3 separate regions of the Homo sapiens genome follow, and regions 2 and 3 are each linked to region 1. The links come from fine-mapping of genetic effects on gene expression. A gene starts in region 1. Each other region holds a variant in brackets. All regions are shown on one strand. Distances are from middle to middle. Region 1 holds the start of ALDH1A1 (aldehyde dehydrogenase 1 family member A1). Region 2 has its middle 55 kb from the start of ALDH1A1. Region 3 overlaps LOC101927281 (a long non-coding RNA gene).

Region 1 (8,190 bases):
GTAGGAGAAAATTTTTGATCCCTGAAATCTTGGAAGACCCTTGGAACTTCACTCTGATGCAATCTTTGTCAGATGGGACATGACTGTACAAAAAAGAGTGACAGAAAAGCTAGGAGAAGACGTGAGGCATACTTGTAGGAAACAGGTCTAGGAAAGGTTGGGTAAAAGGGAATATTCTGGAAAAACTGGAAAGGATTCAGAAAAATAGGACTAGGATCACTAACGTTAAATCATTTCCCATGTCCAGGCATTATTTCAAGGGCTTTGTACGCATTAAGTTCGTTTAATACTTTCATCGACCTTAGAAAATACGTGCCTTTATCATCCCCATTTTAAACATAAGAAAACCGAGGCAGAGAGAAGTAATGTAGCTTGCCCAATGATCACATAACTTTCAAAGAATCTCTTCATTTAAAGGCTCAATAAAATGGAAAATGTGGGGTTCATTTAGAGTTGGAAAGAGGAGTAATGAGGATAAGGATGGGATATGAGTTCATATTAGTGAATTTATAGCGATGTTTTTGAGGTTTTAAATTCCAAAAGCTTTTGTATAATTTTAGAAAGCATTTCTTAAACTCTGATCTCTCTTTAATCTACCCCAACAAAGAAATAATCAGACTGTACTAGAAAATAAGTCATAAAAACATATGCATCAATAAATTCTTTTGTTTGGGTGAAAAGCAGTCCCAAGCTTGAGAGTATGTAGCTTTTCTATCGTAGTTGTAATATTTTTTTTTTTACTCAACCCTGTCTGTTCTCTCCAACTTGTCCTAACAACCAATATACTTCTAGCTATAATAATAATAAAAAAGGACATTAGAATAGTAACAGAAAAATAACACAAGACTTTAGGGGCTGGTAATAGAAGATAATTCCTCAGACACTATAAACTCCTTGCTTACTTGGTTTGTAACCAGGGAACTTTTTATAGTTAATAACCATCATTTTTTTTTTTAACTCCTCTTGCAAGAGCAAATTCAATCCAATTCTTCACTGGGACATAGTAAACAAAAAATGCGAAGGCATTTGAAAAAGTTCACCCATTTAGATTTAATTACATACATAACTGGCGTCCTCCCAAGTGTGAAAACGCTGTAACCAATAAATTAAACAATAAAATGCTATCTGAGCAGAACAGATTTATATAGAAGATGCACGAGAAATCAAAATTCACTGACTTGTTTGGAGTATTTTTACCCAGAAAAGTTCTTAAACACAGAGCAAAACGCCTGCTCTTTGAGTCTTGCCTTCTTTTGGACACTTAGGTCAGTCACTTTCCCTAGAGGGGAGTTGTTGCACAGTGACTTCGAAGTGAATAGGTTTCAATCTCAAAATCATCTCTCTGTGTTAAGGGTTCATTAGGTCTGTGCTTGTATGTTAGATTTTTAGGACCATCTCATTTGTCTAGTACCGCTTCTTACATGCTTAGTTAATGACTACTAAGTGAAGCTTAATTTAGCAGGAAGGTTATTTACATTAGAGCTTCCTTGAAATACACACACAAGGAAGACTTTGCAAACTTCTGCAAAGCCAAAGGAGTGGGGAGACAGGGGCATCCAGACTACCAAAATATCTTCCTAGGTAGTATTATTAAAAAAAAAATCCCATTAATAATAGTAATACAATAATCTGAGCATTGTCGACAATTTTGAGCTTCATGAAATGTATTTTTAAATGTACCCACTTTCAATTGAAATTTCTTGTGAATGACAAACTTGGAATAAGAAAATGAGGGAGACTGGACTCTTGCAACCTTTTGGACATACCTTTGCCAAATGTAAATTGTTTGACGGTATGGATTTACTGCATTTTTCATGCTACCATTTGTAGTAAAACTAAATGGAAAAAATCTTTCCTCTTTAACAAAACCTCGTGATAACAATACCTTAAAATACACTTCATAGCTGCTGGTCAACCATGTTAAAGGCACAATCTGATCTCTGCTGCTACTTTCCTGAGGAAAAGAGCCAATCAGCTGAGCAACTTCCTCATTTGTTGTGCTTTATGAAAATGAAAATGCAACAGACCTTGGGATTTCAAAGCCATCCATGGTTACAAGTGAGGAAATAAATATATAACAGTGGGGACTTTTACTTTATCATTAAATTATAATGCCCTTTGTTTTTCTGTTGGCTAATTCAGACAGCAAAATGGCTCTCTCTTGATTTGCAAGAGTTAATTTCTTACCATACTTTCTGCATCACACCATAAAGATAACTTCAAGTAATTTTGGTTAGATTGTGTTTTATTCATTTGTTTGTTTTGGAGTTCTAGGATCTGACAGGAAAGCAGTGTGAAACAGGCAAAGTTCAGAGTTACTCTCAGAACGACTCAAGCAGGATCCATTTCCTAGTTCCCCCCAGCTGCGGATTTTAAAGTCTGGATCTAGCTCCTGCTCTTGTTTCTCTAAATATTTATCAGTTAACAATTACACATCTGCTCCAATGGCAACAAACTTGGCTGAAGAAATAATGCTTTTCTTCCTCCCACCAAAATATGCAAAATAATGCAAGTCCATCTGAAGATTTTCGAATCCAATTATCAGACTTAAGTCCCCCTATTTTAACACTCATTTTATTAAACATATTGGAAAGTTATGTTATTTCAGTATGCTCTCTTTCTCCTTGTTTGCTTTCTATTGTTCCTACTCGTTTGGTTCTTTCCAGTAAGCTTCTCTAGTGAGTATTTTGCTCTCTTATCATACATGCCGGCTATAGTGAAGTTAATAGAAGTGCTTAGTAAAGTCCTCTGAATCCTGGTATAAGAATCCTTTCACACAGAAGAGAATTCCTTTCGCTTGGAAATATTTTAAGAAATAAATTTATGAAAGATTGTCTGATATGATTTAGATCATATTTGATCAGGACACTAAACTGAGACCTGCATTTTGCATGCCTTTTATTTTTATATTTGCAAAGGGCTCTTTACACAAGTTTACTTAAATTGACCTTTAATGCTTTACATAAATGCAGTTTTTGCAAACCCGAGTCAAAGCAGAAAATAGAAGTTTTACTCACCTTAGTATATTGAATCTTCAAATCGGTGAGTAGGACAGGTAAGTCTGGCGTGCCTGAGGATGACATTTCTGATTCGGCTCCTGGAACACAGGTGACTGGCTCAGCAATTTGGTTCTGATAGAGCACTTGGCTTTATTTGTTCCTTTTTTATCTGCACGGGCTAAAGTTTATTTGCATACTCGGATACGATTGGATGAACAAACTCAGAGCAAAAAAAGAAAACGACACTACTTATTTGTAACACCTAGGGCAGGAAGCCTTTGACTTTAAACTTAAATCCTTAAGAAACCAGTGCTCCAGCATCGAATTTGTACCTGGAGACAGTGCACTATTTGCAGATGAATTAATTTACAAAGCCGAAACCTGTGATAAGTGTATGCAGCAGCTGCTCTGGCCACTAAGGCCAGTTATTATTTTTTTGACTTCTCATGCTTTTTAATGCTACTATGTAACTTTCTGTTCTCTGACAGACTTGGAATCAGAGAATTTGAGGATTGAAAAGAGTCTAAAAGGGCACTTGTTCTCAGTAGAAGCTGGCCAGGTGTCTTCAGGACAAGGCTTTCAGGAAATCAGTCCATCTCCCAGAAAATCAAGGTGCTGTTTGGGGAAGAAAGGCCCTTTATCTACACCCTACCCTAAGTTAGTTTTAAAATATCGTATCAGTCTTGTGTATTTTCAGTGCTGGGTAAGTAGACCTACTGTGATCTCAGAAGCCCTAAATTATCTTTATTTTCTATATGTGAACAGAAAAGCCAGCAGGACTTTTAGGGAATTCGGAACACACTGTCACACACAATCACCACAATTAGAAATATGGCAATATCATCTATTAATACTCATTTAAAATGAAAGTAATCCTGGTTTTGGAAGTTGTCTGTATTTATCAACATAGGCAGTGTACAAAGACTAAATTTAAGCAGGGCTTCCAAACAATTCAAGTTCTTAAATTAATATTTAGCTGAAGGACAATTTTTTAAACAGTGTTACTCCCATTTTAAGTACAATACTTTATTGTATTGTAGCTCTAGCAAACGTTACAATAGGAACAAGATAAAATACTCTGGATGCTCTGATTGTGGAGAATCAACCAATTTTTTTTTTTCTAGTGAAACTTGCCAATTCCCCTGAATATGGGACTTACATAGGGAAACTAAAAATTTCTGAATTGTTTGCCCAAATCAGGTGCAGCACTTGTTTCCCTTTCTACCCTCATTTCATATCCCCATTTTAGAGACATACAGAGGGTGAGTAGCTTACTTATGGTCACAGATCTATTAGTGCAGGACCAGAATTTCATTTCAGGCCAGTCTGACTCCCAAACCTGGACTCTTATTTCTGTTTACTATTTCTACCCTATTCTCCACAAGAGAACTCCTACATGGGTTCAAGCATCAACTGCTTTGGTTTTCTCAGTGAATAGTCACCCTTACAGGCATTTAAACATAACTTTTTATTCATCTAAGACAAGAATTTGCAAAACTTTTTCTGTAAATATTTTCAGCCTCTGGGCTGGATGGTTTCTGATATAATTTACTTGACTCTATTTAAAAGAAACTGTAGATGATAGGTAAATTAATGGGTGTAGTTGTTTTCCTATAGAACTTTATTTAAAAAGACAGAAGGCAGGCCAGATTTGGTGCACGGGCCAACTCCCTAGATTCTAAGGCAATATCATTCCCAATGCCTTTGACTCCCCCGTGTCTTATGTTTGATGACCAGATAGAAACTTCTGTGTTCTTTCAACATTTCTCTGTTTCTTTCTTTTTGGAAAGTCTAATTGTTTTCTCTCTCAAAAATGTGTTTTGAGTTAAATGCACAATTACACAACAGCTGTTACATAACTTGAGAGTGGCGCTCTGGCCATGCCCAAACAGCTGTGTTTTGCTGCTTTCTTCTCCCAGAGTCACAGTTGTTTGTGGATTCAAATACTGGTTTATTTGATGTCCAGGCGATGAAAGCTCAAGGCTTCATAACATACTTGGCTTGTCATCTCACTTCTTATATGATCATTCTCAATTGTATTTTATTGGATAATTATGTAAGAACAGTCCCTTTATACCAGGCATTCCTGAATGTAGGCAAAAGGAGTTGCTTTGGAGACAGGTTACCACACCTGCCCATTTAATTTCAGCAAATATTTACTAAGTATCATTTATGCATCCATAATTCTTTAGCCCTAACCTCACTTAAGCAGATCTTTTCTGCCTAGAAACCACAGGGCCTGAGACCTATATTTTTGAGGTAAACATCATCCTGCCCTGAGAGCTTATTTTGTAGAATAGCATATTTCTGGGAATTGCTGCATATGAGGAAAAGATTTCATCAGACTACTTCTATTCCTTACAGAGGAAATAATGGCTTTTGTGAGAACCTAGGGACCAAGGTTGCACATTTTAGAACTGGACCCAGGATTGTACGTTTTTATGGTATGCCAGGACTATGCAGCAGAGGAGGAGCTGTCCCTTTAACTTGAGAGTAATCGACAAATGATGTTTCATCTTCTTTTTCCTCCTTATGAACAAACTAAATCACACACACACACACACACAGGCACACACACATATGGAGAGAGAAGCAAGAAACATAAGAGGATAGTTTATTCATCTCTTGAATTTGACTTCTCCAGCCATTTGTGAAAGCTTTCATTATACCAAGAAACATATAGATTATGACTTCAACCATTCTTGAAACTACTCTTTCATTTTACAACAAACATCTCCAGAACTCCGTCCAATCCTCAGTTCCTGAAAAGATAAAAGGAACCTAATCTGCCACCCAGGACTTAAAATTTTTAAAAAAATGTTGAAAAAAGTCATATGATGAATTAAAAATAGCTTCTGCAATGGACTGAATTTTTTTTGTCCAGTCACAATGGATATGTTGAAATCCTAACCCCCCATGTGATGGTATTAGGAGATGGAGCCTTTGGGAGGTGTATTAGTCCATTCCCATGCTACTAATAAAGACATACTTGAGACTGGGTAATTTATAAAGGAAAGAGGTTTAATTGACTCACAGTTCAGCATGGCTGGGGAGGCCTTAGGAAACTTACAATCACAGTGGAAGGGGAAGCAAACACGTCCTTCTTCACATGGTGGCAGCAAGGAGAAGTGCTCAGCAAAAGGGGGAAAACCCCCTTATAAAACCATCAGATCTCATGAGAATTCACTTATTATCATGAGAACAGGATGACGGTAACCCCCCTCCATGATTAAAGTACATCCCACCGGATCCCTCCCATGACATGTGGGGATTATGGGAACTACAATTCAAGGTGAGATTTGGGTGGGAACACAGAGCCAAATCATATTAGGAGGTAATGAGGTTATGAGGGTAGGACCCTCATGAATGGATCAGTGCTTTTATAAAAGGGACTCCAGAGAGATCTCTCGCTGTTTCTGCCATGTGTGGATGCAATGAGACATTGGCAATCTGTAACCCAAAAGAGGGCTCTCACCAGAACCCAACTATGTTGGCACCCTAATTTCAGACTTCAAGCTTCCAGAACTGTGAGAAATTAATTTTTGTTATAGCAGCCTGAATGAACTAAGACAGTTTCTTTTCATATTTCCTGATTTCAAGATGCTGGAACCATTTATTGAAGATGAACCTCTCCTACTCCAGTTACATGACCACTCCCCTAACTATTCTCTGTTGCCTTAGCATGTCTGCCTGTTGGTAAACCTAGCAAGAAATCTATCCCTATGCTTTTGATTACTACATTTTTATCAGATACCACATTGCTCTTATGCTTATTTGAGTTTTAATAATTTGGGAAAAGTGGATCTTGTATGTAGTGAGAGAGTCTGTACTTAGTTGACAAGTTGATGTTAAAAATGGAAGTGGAAGGCAGAATTCAAGTATATGAACATATGTATTTGTTGACTAATTTCTGTTCACATGCCATTCTTCTTCAATTGGAAAAATTTCCTCACCTCTGATTTCTCCTGCTCTTTACATATCTTTTCATTGTTCTTCTCTTTGGCTTGTGTTACTGAGATAGGATAGATGCCCCTCTAATCTGGTCTAACCAGGACACTAACTGATTAGTAAGGTCACTAAAAGAAACAGTACATTAAAGCCTCTGTAAGATAATTATTTGAGTTTAAATAGGTTTTTGCTAAACCTTATGGGTTGAGGCCATTTCTTGGAACTGGATTTGCTGCTTGGAATTTGAAATAATCTTGCATAAATAGTACTCATAGTGTTTTGTCTAGTTTCCAGTTTGCTTCCTTAATGTGTAGAAAGAAAGACATGAAAGACATCAATGAGTCAATCAAAATGTAGACTACTTTGAGATTTCCACAATTTTTTCTTTTTTTTTTTTTTATAATTCTCATGCAGATTATCCAACAATGTGTTTAGAAATTTGATGATATTGTTTGTAATATATTCAGTTTAATTTTCATATAAACAACTTTTCTTACCACCCCTGCCCTGGCAATGAATCAATATTTTGAAGCTATTGAAGGGGACCAGAAGACAAATAATTAAAGAATAAAGCTCTATAAACTGGAAAACATAAGACAATGGATTCTTTCCTAGAATCTCTGGAGAGAGCCTGACCTGTCCACTCCTTTGATATTGGCCAGTGAAACTGATTTCAGATCTCTGGCTTCTAAAAGTGTTGTTTTAAACCGCCAAGTTTATAACTGTTACAGCAGCCATTGGAAACTAATGCACTAATCAATAAAAGTTCAAGTTCATAGGTGTCAAAATGTATATGTTGTCATTGATCATGCACCCGTCATTCTTTGTGTCATTCAGGTTTATTGTTACTATCTAAATATTCTAATTTAAATAAAGGTAAGCTTTCTATCTGTACCTTACAATGAAAAACTCATCAGGTGTTTTATATATTTTATATACATATATATTTATGTATATATATGTATGTGTATATATAGAGAGAGTAAAGATGAGAAAGAGGTTTATTTGGCTCATGTTTCTGTAGGCTGTACAAGCATGGCACCAGCATCTGCTCAGCTTCTGGTGAAGCCTCCGGAAGCTTTTACTCATGGCAGAAGGCAAAGGGGGAGCATATATGTCACATGGAGAGAGAGGGAGCAAGAGAGAGGGGGAAATGTGTCAGGCTCTTCTTATAACCAGCTCTCCTGTAAATTTATTACCGTGGGGAGAGCACCAAGTCATTCATGAGAGATCCACCTGCATG
Region 2 (8,190 bases), 54 kb after region 1:
TGAGCCCCTTTCCAGTGCTTAAAGAGTTGACTTAGTCAAATGTAATTCTCTTTGTTCCTCTATAGGTAAGGTGTTCTTTCCATCTGGCTTCTTTCAAGATTTTTCCCTTGCCTTTGATTTTGTTGTTTGAATATGGTATATCTAGGTGTAGGGTTTTGGGAATTTATTCTGCTCGTTATTCCCCGAGTTTCCTAGATCTTTGGTTTGGTTTGGTGTCTGAGATTAATTTGGGGAAATTTTCAGTCATTATTGTTTCAAATATTTTTTCTTCTTTCAGTTTTTTTCCATTATGTATATGTTATACCTTCTGAACTGTCCCACAGTTCTTCGATATTCTGTTCTGTGTTTTTCAATCTTTCTTCTGTTTGCTTTTCAGTTTGGAAGTTTCTATTGTTATATCCAGAAGCTCAGTGATTCTTTCTTCAGCTGTGTCCAATCTACTAATAAGCCCATCAAAGGAATTCATTTGTTTCATTGTTCTTGATCTAAGGCATATCTTTTTGATGCTTTCTTAGAATTTGCATCTTTCTGCTTACATTATCTATCTGTTTTTGAAGCTTGTTCATTGTTTCTTTCTTTTTTTTTTTTTTTGAGACAGAGTCTGGTTCTGTCGCCCAGGCTGGAGTGCAGTGGTGCCATCTTGGCTCACTGCAAGCTCCGCCTCCCGGGTTCACACCATTCTCCTGCTTCAGCCTCCCGAGTAGCTGGGACTACAGGCGCCCGCCACCACGCCTGGCTAATTTTTTGTATTTTTTGTAGAGACGGGGTTTCACCGTGTTAGCCAGGATGGTCTCGATCTCCTGACCTCGTGATCCGCCTGCCTCGGCCTCCCAAAGTGCTGGGATTACAGGCGTGAGCCACCGCGCCCGGCCGGTTGTACATTGTTTCTATTAAGTCTCTGCCCTATTTTGAATGTTCCCTCCAAAACTCATGTTGAAACATAATCCCCAATGTGGCAGTATTGAAAGGTGGGACCTTTAAGAGGTGATTGGATCATGAGTGCATTAATCCACTCATGGATTAATGCATTAATGAGTTAATGGATTAATGGTTTGTCCTCGGAGGGTAACTGTTGGCTTTATAAGAACAGGAAGAGAGACCTGTGCTAGCATGTTGGCATGCTTAGCCCCCTCACCACATGATGTTCTGAACTACCTCAGGGTGCTGCAGTGTCCCCACTAAAAAGAATGGTCTCACCAGATGCAATCCCTGAGCAAATTGTTAACTATTCAATAATTTAAGAATAGGAAAGCTTTTTTTTTTCTATAAGAAAGAAATTCCCTTTCTTTATAAATTACCCAATTTTAGATATTCTGTTATAAGCAAAATAATGTATATAAATTGCATTCTGAAACTTATTGCAAGTCAAATTAAATCACTTTTGTTAAAAGTCTAAAGGATCTAGCAAATTGTGTGTTTCAAAAGGAAAAATAAACGTTCTTCTTACTGCTTTATGTATTCTAAATATATGTTCTAAATACCACATAAAGATAAAATTCCAGCTGGGTGCGGTGGCTTATGCCTGTAATCCCAGCACTTTAGGAGGCCAAGGTGGGTGGATCACCTGAGGTCAGGAGTTCGAGACCAGCCTGACCAAATATGGTGAAACCCGTCTCTACTAAAATTACAAAAATTAGCCAGGAGTGGTGGCGTGCACCTGTAGTCCCAGCTACTCAGGAGGCTGAGGCAGGAGAATCGTTTGAACCTGGGAGGCGGAGGTTGGAGTGAGCAGAGATGGCACCACTCCACTCCAGCCTGGGTGACAGAGCAAGATTCCATCTCAAAAATAGAATAAAATAAAATAATAATACAAAAAGACAAATGTTTATTATGGGATTTAGAGAAAGTGCCTTATAACCTTCAGTTTATTATAGTATATTCATATAGTAAGTATCTTCTCTTATTTTCTAATTTTCATAGAGCTGAAAATATAATGTGATCAATTAAATATTCATTGCCAATAATAAACCCATTGGAAAATCTACCTGCTCAGACTTCTGGTTTCTGGTTCAGCATGCAAGGAGCTTACCATGCTCATGTTTGCCTGTCTGAGTGTGTGTGTGGTAATATTCTATTGTTACATTCATTTGTTTACATTCTGTTAGTGAAGTTGAGCATCTTATTAATGTTGTTAGCCATCCATAATTCCTCTTCTGTGAAATGCACCACCTCCTCTTCTTTTCAGTCCAGGATCAAAGCTACTTTTCTTTTCAAGGTCGGAGATCAACATAGCAGTAGCATGTTGTTACTACTTTATTGTAACAACAAGTAACAAGCTGGACAAACTTAAAAATCAACTCTTCCAAATCCATTAGAGAGGTGAGGTCATAGGAAAAACTGCTACTCCAAAATTTTAGAGACAGGCAGATATAGAGAATTACAACTTACTGTACCAGAAACCTGCATGGGAATCAATTCCAGGCTAGGAAAATCTAAGTTGTAATTAACAAATTGTTGGAGTCTCAATGCGAACAAGTCTGAGAGCTAAAAAATGCAGGGGTACTAAGTCATAGGGGGAGGCCCACACTCCATTGATTGTATGATTATATAAACAATGCATAATCTTTGTAAAACTTCAAAGAATACACCAAATTATAGGGAAGGATGAAAAAAGTCCTTCGAAATCCTGCTACTCTTACATATACTGATTTGTAGTATTTTGGTTAAATTCATTTATGTATTTTTATGTAATATCACACTTATGTATAAAACAGCATAAATGGAAAAATATCTTACATACTGGGACACATATTTAATAAATACAGTTGTTTTTTGTGAACTGACATATCTTCTCCCTGTACTCCATCCTACCCTCCCCACCTGGTCCCCCACTCACCGATTATGCAACCAAAAGTTAACTATCTGGTATATGTGTTTCTGTAACTTTCTCCATTATTTTAGATTCATATACACATACATACAAATATGCGTGGTACATATGAAACACATTTTGCCACTTTGTTTTACATAAATAGAATATTGTATTTATTTCTCCGTACTTGCTTTTTTCCTTTGGTGTTTATCAAGAACATATTTCCAGGGAAATATATATAGATCTGGGTCATTCTTTTTAATGACTAGGTAATAATGTATGAAATTACCCCAGTATATTAAATTATGCCTCATTGTGTAGACCTTTAATTTGTTTCCAAAATTGTCAAATATCTCTTTGTCACTATATCCTTATGCATTGAAACTTTTATTTTTATGGTATAGAAAACTAAGAGTGGGGTTACTGAATACGAGGCTATGTGGATTATTAATTTTAACACATAGCACCAGAATGTTTTTCTAAAAGGCTATATCTGTTTGTACTTCCACCAGTGATAGATGAGAGTTTCCTTCCTCTCTTGTTACCATGCTCATGTTTGCCTGTCTGAGTGTGTGTGTGGTGATATTCTATTGTTACATTCATTTGTTTACATTCTGTTAGTGAAGTTGAGCATCTTATTAATGTTGTTAGCCATCCATAATTCCTTTTGCGTGAAATGCACCACTTTCTCTTCTTTTCAGTCCTGGATCAAAGCTACTTTTCAAGGTCTGAGATCAACATAGCAATAGCATGGAAAATTACAGTGCTCTCTGTGTGGCAGCATTTTGAGGAAAATACAAGCACTATACGTAAAATAGTGGTTTACTCACAAAACTCCAGGACCATTCTCTGAATTGATTTGAAGCTGGTTAACAAATGTAAAATAACCATTTTCCTGGAGTGAAAACTAAGGAGTTAATCACTTTAAGCCCCTGACAAACACTAATCAATTTTCTGTGTCTGTATACTTGCCTATTCGGAACATTTCATATATAAAGGAAATCATACAACATGTTACTTTTTGTGTTTGGTTTCTTCCACATGATAATTTCAAGATTCGTCCATTTTTTAGCATGTATAAATTCTTCACTTTTTTGTTGCTGAATTATATTTCCTTGTATGGCTATACCACATTTGTTTATTTGGTTGCTTTTGGGTTTATTTAGTTGGTAGGCTTTTGGGTCAATCTAATGTGTGTTCAAATCCAAGTTTTAACATTCCTTTATGAAGATGGGTATGTTAAAAGAAAAAAGTTTAAATTCAATTTTATCAGCCTCAATACACTGAATTTTATATATATATATATATGATTGAATATTATATATCCAATATACTGGAATACACACACACACACACAAGACCTCACAGGGTTTGTGAAGATTAAGTAAAACAATATATGTAAAATACAGTATCTGGCCCTTGTAATAAGTACTCATATCAGTCAGGAAATCAGAAACCACA[A/C]TAATTATAACAGAAAGAAGTTAGTATGATGAATAGCTAAAGTAGTAAAAAAGGAACATGAAGGGAACAGAGAAATTAACTGCAGGAAGTAGCTTTGCCAGTAGGCTGAGGGAAACAAGAAGGTGTTGGGATGGGTTATCAGAGCCCAGATGCTGGGAGGGGGTCCCAAGAGCTGAGATCCACACAGCTCAGGGGAAGAATCTGCTTGTCTTACTCTGTTGTCTTTTAAGATGTTTTTGCTGCTGCTAGGGAAAAGGATCTGAGTAGGGAAATGCTGAAGGAACAGTAAGCAAGTAGGGTGGAGTCTGCTTTCTTCCCTTCTGCCTTCCGTTCTCCCGCCAGTGCATTCTACTAACAGAACCTAGAAAGACACAATCTGGCAAGGGAGAAAAGTAGATAGCAGAGTCTCCGCTGAGCATAGAATGAAGAGTTTGGAACTGAGAAAAGCTAGTTTAATAAACTGGCATAGTCTACCCCTTTGACCATTCTACATCTATACACCTTTCTATGAATTTTTGAATTTCCATAAAGCAAAAGCTATGCTATTGTCTAGAAAGATGAAGGAACTATCCATCCTTTGCTCTCTCCTCTCTCTAAAAGAGAAAGCCATGAAGTCCCAACCATAGTAACAATTTCCAGAAAGAGTCACGGTATCAATTTCTGACTGATGTTGATTGCTCCTCAAATTCTGTCACAGTCCCACCTGGAAATTGGTAATATAAAGTCTGAAGTGTAAAACACCATGATCCAATAAGCTCTATGTAAAATAAGGAGAGAAAAAGAGAAAGAAAATAAATATAAATTAGCTAATATGCATTACTATGAATATACCTATAAGTAACAAGAAAGGAAGAAAGCTTATATCACTGCTCTTGTCCTCATTTCTGAAACTAATCACGAGAGCATGGTTAACGTTTCTAACTTTTGTCTTTTCATGTCTATTCCATGTCCCCCTTGTCCTCAGCTAACTAGATTTCTGTACTAGTGGGCTTATCTGAATTTTTGTTTCTGAAGGATGTGAATCCTCAGTAATGGGCCTTTGTGTAGTTGCTTAGTATTCTAAGTGCAGTGGCATGATCTTGGCTCACTGCAGCCTCGACCTCCAGGGCTCAAGCAATCCTCTCACCTCAGCCTCGAGTAGTTGGGACTACAGGTGCATGCCACTATGCCCAGCTAAGTTTTGTGTTTTTGTTGTTGTTGTTGTTTTGTTTTTGGTAGAAGCAGGGTTTCGCCATGTTGTTAAGACTGGTCTTGAACTCCTGAGCTCAAGTGATACACTCACCTTGGCCTCCCAAAGTGCTGGGATTACAGGTGTGAGTCACTGTGCCTGGCCTGGACATAAAGTGTTAATAGGTGCTCAGAGAATCCAGTCATTGTGCTCTCTGCCTCCCTCACTGTTTGGAAGCTGCTCAGGTTCCCTTTGGTAATGAACATCAATTGCTCTTCTCCATACAACAACCTCCTTCAAGTGTTGGCTCAATGGCATGAGCCCCAGGTGTCCAGGCTACAGTTTTAACTTCCAGTTTAATGGAGTTTTTGGTGTCTATGTGTACATTCCTCCCTTGGGATCTAACCATCTGTAAACTAAGTTCAAGGTTTTCTTTCTCAGTTATAAGGAATTCCCTTGGATTGAGTGAGAGAAGACAATGAAGATGGAGTAGGTCTCAAAGGACGTGAAGGACAAATTGAGGCATTGAACCACCTTCTCATGTACATCTCTTAAAAGCATGTCCACTTGATGATTAATTGCTTGCTAAACTTATGGCTTGGTGGACCATATAACACCCAGTTTATGAGGGGCAGTTCAGATTGCACAGTTATTTTGATGTTCCTTGGTCAAGCTTTCAGGCTCTACAAAGATCAAAAGCATTCCAGTAACTGTTTCTCAAAAAAAGAAGCAAATATGTTGAAGACATAGATTTGCTCCCAAACCCCCCTAGAGGTCTGCATTGTAATCCTCCTATCAGGGCTTGCCAGAGACTCCATGTGGTGCCTCTGTATACCACAGACACTTAAGATCTTAGGAACAGCTGCTGATCTTCAAGGGGAAGTGTAGCTCACACTACAGTCTGGACTTGCTGCAGAGCCTTCGCTTGCTCTGGTCTCCACTCAAATTTGGCAGTTTTAGATGTGACTCAATAAATGGAAATGGTAGCTGGGAATCAGATCTCTGAAGAAAGGGTACTTGCCTGCTTCATGCTAGTACTACCAATGGGGTATGGGAAGGCTTGCTCTGGGAGTGCTGAAGGAAGCCGGGGCACTGCTGGGACAAAACCTACAGAAACAACAAGCAAATAGGAAGACCATGTTCCTTCTCTTATTTCTGCCTTTAAATTTCCGTTAGCTCCTTCATTGGTAGGCTTTAACAGGAAAGCAGCTAGGAGGGGGTAAGATTATTTGCAGAGTTGCAACCTCAGTATCAGAAAACTAAGCCAGAAGGGTAAGATAGGACATGACACGGAGTAGCTTAATAATCAGCACAGAATGAAACTAATCATCGATTTACTCTACTGCACAACATTTATAAAAGAATCTTAAACTGGCTTATTTTTAATATTACAGAAGTTGTGTGTATTTATTGTGGAAAATTTATAAAAAAGAATAAAATAAAATTATTCATGATCACAGTATTTATAAATTTTGCTTCTACTGCCCTTGTTATACATACACTGACACATTTGAAATGTTTTAAATGTTTTCAATAACTTGCATTAATAAATAATACTGTGCTAAATACTTTTGTTGAAAATTGTTTGCAGTTATTGTTATGCCAAATTGTGAAGAAATGTCCACTCTACCCTTATTATATTGTGTTTGAATCTTAGACATATTTACTCTCTATATAAATTATTTTAAGAGAAGTATTGGCCACATTAAAAAAATCAATTTCTTGAATAAAAGTTTGGATGCAAACTTCCTCTTTCTCTCTCCCTTCCTGTCTGTTTCCCTCCCTTCCTTCTTGTCTTTCTCCTCCCTCCCTTCCTTCTTTCCTTTATTCCTTCCTTCTTTTATCATGTTATGGTGTGAATATGAAGACATTACTCGGATTATTGCACATTCCTTTCTGGAGAAGAAATTATAACTAAAAATGCATATGAAGAGAGAGTTTTTGAATGTGGGTAGTGATGAGAACAGCTGGGATGTAGACTGGAGGAAATGGCAAGGACATTCAACATAGATATAAATGGAATTGCTTAGCAGAAAAACTTGGAATTTCTTATGCTGGAGCATAAATTTGAATCAAATATATATATACACACATATATTCTTTCTTATAAATATAAAATGCTAAATCTTAAAGCCATCTGTGCTCTTTCTGCAAGTTTGAAACTTGAATTTAGGTAAGTCAAATTGAAAAAGTCTAGGGATGCTGTTGTGTTGCCAAGCAACATTACTAATCTAAGATCTCATAATCACGTGCCATGAAAAATTTGGACACAATAAATGTGTTCCCAGAGCAAGTGAGTCAGCATCAGCTATTTCAGGAAGAATTTGTAGGGAGCCCAAAAAGTCTCTCATGAGGATGAAATTATCTTCAGGCTATTTTGCCTTTCTTTTGCAATGCAAACACTTACACCTCAACTCAGTGGTCCCCAAATCAGACACAGTGAAGGAGATAAAACGTATCCTACTCCATCCTATGAAGGTCCACACATTGAAATGAGAGGATCCCCTCCATATGCAGAGACTAGAAACCCATGCCCTTATTCAGAGGATGGAAGCCCATGGCTAGAATCAACTAACTGGGAAGTGGGTGTCCCATCTGGATCACCATATCAGACTGAAGAGCAAGAAGAGGATGAGAAAGTATGCTTGTGCTCTTGTTCCTGGAAATGTTCCATTTAAATTCCAATATTTCTTTCCTTTCTTGTCCAAATATCAGTTCCACTTGTTGATATTTTTTCTTTTATCTTGTT
Region 3 (8,190 bases), 330 kb after region 1:
ATCTGTGCCACATATTGTATTCATTCTCCTCTAAGCTATTATGAGCACTCAGGTCCCTAAACTGAAATCCTTTTAAAATTTCTGTCTTCAGTCTCTTTGTAAATATGCTAAGTTATTCTCCACACTCCCTGCCACCAATGAGCAGACTTAATCGAGATAATATGCAAAATGTTATTTCTCCACTGTTTACACCTCCAAAAGGGGAGCATTATTTTCAAGTCAAGATACCTAGTGTAAAAGTAAGGGTGTTGGAGGATAATCCTGTGATTGCATAGCTTGTTGAGATGCACTGCCCTAGCCCAATTCTCATTTTGATTTATTTAAGTTTGGAAATAACAGTATTAAATTAGCAAAGACAAGCAATGAACAAAGCCCTGGAGATGAATTAGCCATTGTCTCTGGTCCATTAATCTCCTCTTCAATTCTAGAGAATTGTGGCTCACCCAGACCCGAAGATCAAATAAAATGCCTAATTGGGAAAATCCTAAACAAGTGTGTCCTGGGGAGCTTGAATTTATTTGTCACCCGCTCAAACAACTGTGTTGTTTATATAAGTCTTTAAAACCCTGATACTTTTCCGCTACTATGTCTTAATCCCTGGTTCTTTATGCTCAGGAGGGCAATTTAGAGTTGTTTTCAATTAAGTAGAATGGAGAGGGGCACTTATTCCAAAAACAGATAGCTGTGTTGTGAGTATTTTGCCAAACATGCTGAGTGGTTTAGATTTAAGCATCAGGTTGGGAGAAGCTTTGGGATCTCCTTGAAGATAATGATATCTGCTGTTTGGTGCTTTTAATATCAGTAATACATAGTTGAACATAATCACAATTAACGACATAAATGTGGCAAGGAAGGTTGAGATGTTAAGGCTAAACACAAATGTGAAGCAAAGAGCTGAGATAATTATCTAGGATGGCAATCCAGATCATGCAATACTTTCGATTAGAATATGCAGATGATATGCAAATAATTGAGGTCAAAATTTTATTTAACACTGGGCAAAATAGAATGAAAATCAATCCATTGAATTTTGTTCACACAGAGGTGGGACATTTATTTTCATGACCTAAAATGTACCAATACTTTATGTTACATAGAAAAAGTCAGACTAGAAACTGGGTATCAACTTACTAACAGCAAAGTAACTACACACGCTGTTAATATTGACTCTGTCTCAACAATAATTTAAACTGCAGTACTTAGGTTCCATCGTGTTTTACAAAACTCATGTCATTTAATTCTCACAGTGAACCAAGGGAAGATAATGTTATTAACTCAATTTCATAGGTGAACAAATGGCGGCGGCATCTAAAAGTTAGAGATTCACCCAAGATTGGTCAGCTGGTGAGTGGGTGGAACCAAAGTTTGCACTCAAGTCTACCTACTTCTAAAGACTAGGCTTTTGGTACTCAACTGCATGGCTATTAGCACTAAGTTTGCAGAATGACTAGTAGGGTTTGTTGAATGGGTTGTTTAAATAGAATAAAATATAAGTTAAAAAATTGACTAACTCTTAGATGAGACACAAGGGCATTAGATTTCAGAAGTGCATGAAGAAATTTTCTGCTTAGCAATATCTATGCAATGGTGAAAACCCACTTAAAGTCTTCACTGTCTGTTTATTTGGCTAAACTGACTGATGGCAGGGTGTCTACTTTGTACTGTGTTCCTTCAGCCTGGCTCCCTATTTTTTGGTGTGTTAGTATAGTTTGTTTTCAGCTGAAGTTATTAATTGGGGCAAAATATTAACATGCTTGGGAATGTTGCATATGGATTAGGTCAACCTGTTGTTATTCTGACTTAATTTTCTATTATTGATCAGCTATACATTAATTTGTTTTTAAGAAATATTCATTGAGGTAAAACAGTCCATATTTAAGATGAAGAAGAATTTAAAGGAGAAGGGTTATGTGATGATAATTAGCCTGATACTTTAGGCATAACAATTTTAAATTTTGTTTATATTTAGGCTTATTGATAGTTATTAGGTTGGACAATCATATATCAAATGGATTATTTAAATATTTTAATATATAATAATCACACTGTGATTTACCATGTACTTTTCAGTTAAGAGATGTATAGGTACAGTGTTTTACTTGATTTTCAAAATAGTCTTGTGGGTTATGACATTTTTATCATTTTCACTTTACAAATGAAGAAATAAAGACATACAAAAATAAGTGATCAGATTAACTATAGCAGTAAAACAGATACCTGAAGTAAAACCTGGGTAAAAGAACAAAACATTGAGACAGGAGGGATTATACAAATATTAGAGTGAAACACTGAAATATTTTAATTATTCTACTTTACCTTTTATGTGAAATTATAACAACTAGTATGTTTGGAGTGGGCAAATCTAAGCATTCTCAACTCTTAAGGAGGCAAAATTTAGAGAAAGTCAACAATCCTGATAAGGGGCAAAAAAAAAAAATTAAAAAAAGATACTGACAGGTTGAAACTGATGTAAAATTTTTATGTAACTCAAACGTTTCTAGGGCTAATTTCTACAATTTCAAGTACTCAAAGAGAATTTTAAAATTGAGTAGGATTATAATCAGATTTTCTAACCTTAAAAGAGATACTTATTTTCAGTCTAAAATATTTACTCATACATTACTAATCAGTTATATATCAGTGAGCAACAGATCTCTGGAAGACTCTAGGTTTGTGGTCAATAACATTGAATTTAAGAAATCTCCCTCTCTCTCAAAATAGCATAATCTCCATGTTTGTTAATTAATGGAAGGTGATACTGAAGCGTTGTCTATATCTGATATTGGAAGGTGTTAGGATTCTGAAACTGTACTTGTAGCAATGTAGCCAGGCAGTTCAGGCAGATAACATACTGATTGTTTAACCTTTTGCATAGAGAATTAATTATAGCTTGACTTTGCTCATGTTTTGTTCTGGTTGTTTTAACACTGTGTAGCTTCTAATTGCCTTTTTAGAAGCATTCTATAAGAGAAGCAAAATTAATCTCACTGGCTAATAATTCATTTAGCCAGAAGTTAACAAAAATGTATTGATTACTTCCTATGCACCAGAAACTGTTAGAATCTGGACAAAACGTGGGCAAAAATGGACATACTCTCTGTTTTCATAAAATTTAATGTCAAGTGTAAAAGACAGATATTAATCAAGTAATGTGTAACAAATAATATGAAACTACTTTCTTAAAAGTCATGAAAGAGAGGTATATTGTAGTCTGTAACTATGAGAACATATGATTCAGGAAACTAAATTCGTCTGGAGAGTCTG[A/G]TAATGTTTCCTTGCAAAATCAATGAATAAATGAAGAGTGAATATAAGTTAGGTAAAAAGTGAAGGAAAGAGCAGCTGTACAATGGGTACAGTCCATGCAAAAGTCTCATCACAGGAAGAAGCAAGGCATACACAGTGATTGGGGAGGAGAAAGTGAGGAAGAGTATGGTGGATTATGAGACTAGAAAAATGGGTTGGTAACCAACCCTGTAGGAATTTGGCTTATTAATCCCAAATGGTCATTTCTTCATATGTATATATATTCAATACATTGAGAACTTATTATACACAATAGATTTGCTATGAATGATGGTTAATTTAATGGGTCCAGTTGGCTTTGTATGGTGCCCAGATGTTTGGTCAAACATGCTTGTAGATGTTTCTATGAAGGTGTTTTCTTGGATGGGATTAACATTTAAGTTGATGGGCTTTGAGTAAAGCAGATTACCTTCCATAATGTGGCTGCACCTCCTTCCATCAGGTGAAGGACTTAATAGAACAAAGACCATCCTCCACTCATCAAGAAAGACTTATGCCAGGAGACTGCCTCTGAACTCAAACAGTGAGTTTCCCGTGGTCTGTAGCCTGCCAGTCTACTTTGTAAGTTTTGAATTTACCAAGTCTTCAAAGTCATGTGAGCCAATTTTTAAAAGTTACTCTTTCTCTCAGTGTTTCTCTCTGTTCCTCTAGATAGGTAGATAGACAGATAGATAGATAGATAGATAGATAGATAGATAGATAAGAACAGATAGAGAGAGAGAGAGATGATAGAGAGAGAGATCGATCCCATTGGTTCTATTTCTCTAGAGAACCCTAACTAATACACTAGGTTATTATAATGATGGAGGACATACCTATTTGGATACTTAAGGCAGAGTTTAAAACTAATAAGCAGGTAAGAAATACAGTGTGGTAATATGAAACTAAGACAAATAAGTGAGCTAGACAAATCACAGTAAGAGCTATAAGAATGAGAGCATCTGGTGGGCCACAGTGCCTAGGCAGGCTCAAGGAGTTGGTAGGACTTGACAGATGGGACAGGGGAGGGTAGCCCGGTTATGGTATGCAGTAGAGTAGAGGGAGAAGTAAGTGTGGGATGTTTGCAAGCCTCTGAGCAGAACAGCCTGGATAAAGTAGAGTCTTCTGTTAATAAGCCCTCAAGCCTGGCATTCATCCCTCCCTCAAGAGGAGTATCAGAACCCAGAGCTATCTTGTTTTTAGAAGGAAGACACTGTGTGGAGGGAAACTGGATGTGTGGCAACCTCACAGGAAAGGCAAGTTGATAAGATTTTCTTTATGAATTATTCAGAAACAGAAAATTAAGTAACGAGTCCTGTATGATAGTCTAGTTCTATCTGGATTGTTTTCACCTCACAGGGGGATACAAAATAAGATGAGTAGAGCAAAAAGAAAGTAAAATAACCAGTCAGCCAAATATAGCGAGAGAAACAGTGCCTTGGACTCACAGCATGTGGACTCAATGAGAGACGTGCTCCTGAGGGAGCGGTAAAGCAAGCCTTCTGTTCACTGGTGATGCGAACCTACGAGCGCGAACTGCATTGCCAGAGTCCTTTACTGCTCTTTATGCAACTAGGTTAATCCTTTTTGTTGCTTCTTTCTTTCTTTCCGGAAAAGAACTCAGAGAGGATTTTACTGTAGGTAATGTCTGGGAACAGTTCTTTCTTTTATGTGCACTGTGGTGCTTGCTGCTATAAAGCCAGTGACTTAGCCAACTTTGAAGTCATCAGTTCTGATTTGTCACTCAGTAGGTTCAGTTTATGGGGGCAAAGAACCAAGCCATCCCATTCTGGGGAGGTATAGGATGCATTTCTTATGAGCTGCTAAAGGCAGAGGTTCATTTGTTCCATGGTCTCAACTGCTCTAAATAACAGATTAGTGAGATGTTGCACCTGACATTTAACCCTGGGCATTAATTAAAAGTGGCCTGCTGTGATATTTGGGCAGGTGTGGGTAGAAGTAGGCAGTAGTAATACTGCTAGAGAGCAAGCTGTGAAAATCTTTTAACAGCATTTTCACATATTTATGTTGTAGAAATGTATTTTAATGACACTGACATAATTTTAGGGCAAAAGAAATAGCGTATCTCAAAAAATTCAGTTGTATTTTGCATTCAGTTGATGAGGAGGTAAGACACGGTACAGAGTGTTTCACTATTATTCAGCTTAATCACAATGTGTAGTCAATTTACAATATATACCAAGCCCTGTGTTAGGCAGTCTATATGCTTTCTTTTATTGTCATGTTGGAACAACGTGTATTTAACCTTTAGTAAATTTTATTGAGCACTTATTTTGTGCCAGTTGCTGGAGATGTAGCTGTGTACACAATAGATGAGGTTTCTCATGTCAAGGAAGTTAAATTCTGGTCAGCCACAGACAATATTCAAAAGTAGTGTGAACTTTGGGAGGCCTAGGCGGGTGGATCACGAGGTCAGGGGATTGAGACCATCCTGGCCAACATGGTGAAATCCCATCTGTACTAAAAATACAAGAATTAGCTGGGCCTGGTAGTGAGCGCATATAGTCCCAGCTACTCAGGAGGCTGAGGCAGGAGCATCACTTGAACCCGAGAGGTGAAGGTTGCAGTGAGCCAAGATCACGCCATTGCACTCCAGCCTGGGTGACAGAACGAGACTCCATCTCAAAAACAAACAAACAAAAAAATACAAAAAAATTAGCTGGGCCTGGGGGTGTGTGCCTGCAGTCCCAAATACTCAGGAGGTTGAGGTAGGAGAATTGCTTGATCCTGGGAGACGGAGTGCAGCCGAGACCGCGACACTGCACTTCAACCTGCCTGGGCAACAGAGTGAGACTCCCCATCTTGAAAAAAATAAATAAATAAAAATAAAAAAGAAGAGTGGAAGTTCCACAAAGACAGGGGTTTGTGTCTGTTATATCTACGGTTTAACTTCATCAACTAGAACAGTACCTGACAAAAAATATATACAACAACACTGTTTGTTAAATGCCTGGAAGGTAAGAGATGAAGATTAGAGACACTGAATTCTTTGTCCATGGATCCCTATGCCTATAAAATACATAAGCCTTCTAGATATTATTTGTTTTTTCATTTTCTACTTTTACATTTGTTTTCAATTGAGGAAAATTCTAACTTAAAAGCTCAAACCTTTCCCCACATGTTCTCTTGTCTGAATATTGAGGGGATTTTGTTGTTGTTGTTGTCACTCTTGTTAGAGTTGTTATTTTGAGTATAGCTTTCTTACATTTCAATTGAAACCATTATTCACAGAAAGTTAACAAAATGTTGATATCAAAAACAGTTTCTAAAGTACTGCCTATATCACACACATTCTTTTAGGTATAGAAGATACAAAAATGGGCTGGGTGCGGTGGCTCATGCCTGTAATCCCAGCACTTCGCAAGGCCGAGATGGGTGTATCACCTGAGGTCAGGAGTTCAAGACCATCCTGGCCAATATGGTGAAACCCCGTCTCTACTAAAAATACAAAAATTAGCTGGGCGTGGTGGCGAACGCCTGTAGTCCCAGCTACTGGGGAAGTTGAGGCAGGAGAATCGCTTGAACCCAGGAGGCAGAGGTTGCAGTGAGCTGAGATCGTACCACTGCACTCCAGCCTGGGCGACAGAGCAAGACTCTGTCTCGAAAAACAAAAACAACAACAACAAAAAACAAGGCAATAAACAGGTAAACAAATAAGCATGTGATAAGCAACACATTAATAAGTTAAATGAAGAAAACAAAATATGAAAATGTGATAGTGAACAGGGAGAAGTTGATGGTCAGGGAGGGCCTCTCTCTCTAAGTGGTAACATTTGAATTGAGACCTGAATGATGAAAAATACGTAGCTATGAAAGGAAATTATAGAGAATTGTACATGAAGAGAAAATAATGACATATGGGAAAGAGTTTGGCTTCTAAGTTGAAAGAAATATTGCCATTTTGGATAGGACATGGTAACTCAGATGGTATGTGTAGGGAAATAGAGTAAGCAAGGTAGGTGTGAGAGGAGTTTGAATTTTAATTTAATTGCAATAGGAAGGATAGACTTGTCTTTGTCCTGGTGAATGAAAAGATCCAAATTGCACTTGGAAAAAATAACTCTGGATGTCATTGGAATGGACAGAGTGTTGAACATAATGAGAATGACCAGGTGAAAACTTGTTTTTATATTTTGGGCAAGAGTTTATGGTTGAAATAATGAGATATAGTCAGAGAAGCGTTATGTTTTAAAGACAAAAGAGACAGAATTATTGGTGGGTGGGAGAAAAGTAGAGTGTGAAGAAAATAATCAAGGATGATTCTAAGTTTGAATAACTGGTTGAGTAACTGGTTGGGAGGTGACTCAATGGCAGTGAAGAAGACTTGAGAGCAGTGGTATATAAATGTACACAAGGTGGGTGAGAAGAGTAAATACTGTTTGGCTTAGTGTGTTTTCAATGATATTAATGCAAAATGAATATGGTGATATATGGAGATGGGTATGAATCTGGAGCAAAGAGAGATATTAGAGATAAAATTTTCAAAGTCCTCAAAGTGTAGTATTTGAAACCATGAGACTGAATTAGACAACTTAGGAGAAAGTTGTAGGTGGAGAAGAAGGCAGAAAAAGAGATCTCATGGGTGTTTCAATATTTTAAAATCTGGTGCACAGCCAGGTGTGGTGGTGTGCACCTGTAGTCTCAGCTACTAGTGAGGCTGATGTGGGAGGATCACTTGAGCCCAGGAGGTTGAGGCTACAGTGAGTCATAAGGATGCCACTGCACTCCAGCCTGGGTGACAGAATGAGACCCTGTCTATAAACAAATAAAATAAGCAAACAAATAAACAAACAAATAAATACCTGGTGCAAAAGTCAAGAATCTAGCAACTGAAATTGGGAGGTGTCTAGGAATATAAGGTAAAAACCTAACAATATTTAGAAAAAG

What was found. PIP is the estimated chance that this variant, and not a neighbour inherited with it, causes the effect.
Region 2: its variant is fine-mapped to the expression of ALDH1A1 in whole blood (INTERVAL, PIP 0.92).
Region 3: its variant is fine-mapped to the expression of ALDH1A1 in whole blood (INTERVAL, PIP 0.91).

Annotation. Positions count from the first base shown.
Region 1 is chr9:72,949,918-72,958,107 of GRCh38, forward strand. ALDH1A1 (aldehyde dehydrogenase 1 family member A1) reads right to left here and starts at 3,136. Exons shown (of 13, transcript NM_000689.5): 1 at 3,018-3,136. The coding sequence starts at 3,083.
Region 2 is chr9:73,003,825-73,012,014 of GRCh38, forward strand. No RefSeq gene overlaps it. Among named protein-coding and RNA genes, the nearest start is that of ALDH1A1, 55 kb to the left of the region's middle. The variant A/C (reference allele first, on the strand shown) is at 4,274.
Region 3 is chr9:73,279,792-73,287,981 of GRCh38, forward strand. All of the region lies in intron 1 of LOC101927281 (a long non-coding RNA gene), which reads left to right. Among named protein-coding and RNA genes, the nearest start is that of ANXA1, 130 kb to the left of the region's middle. The variant A/G (reference allele first, on the strand shown) is at 3,265.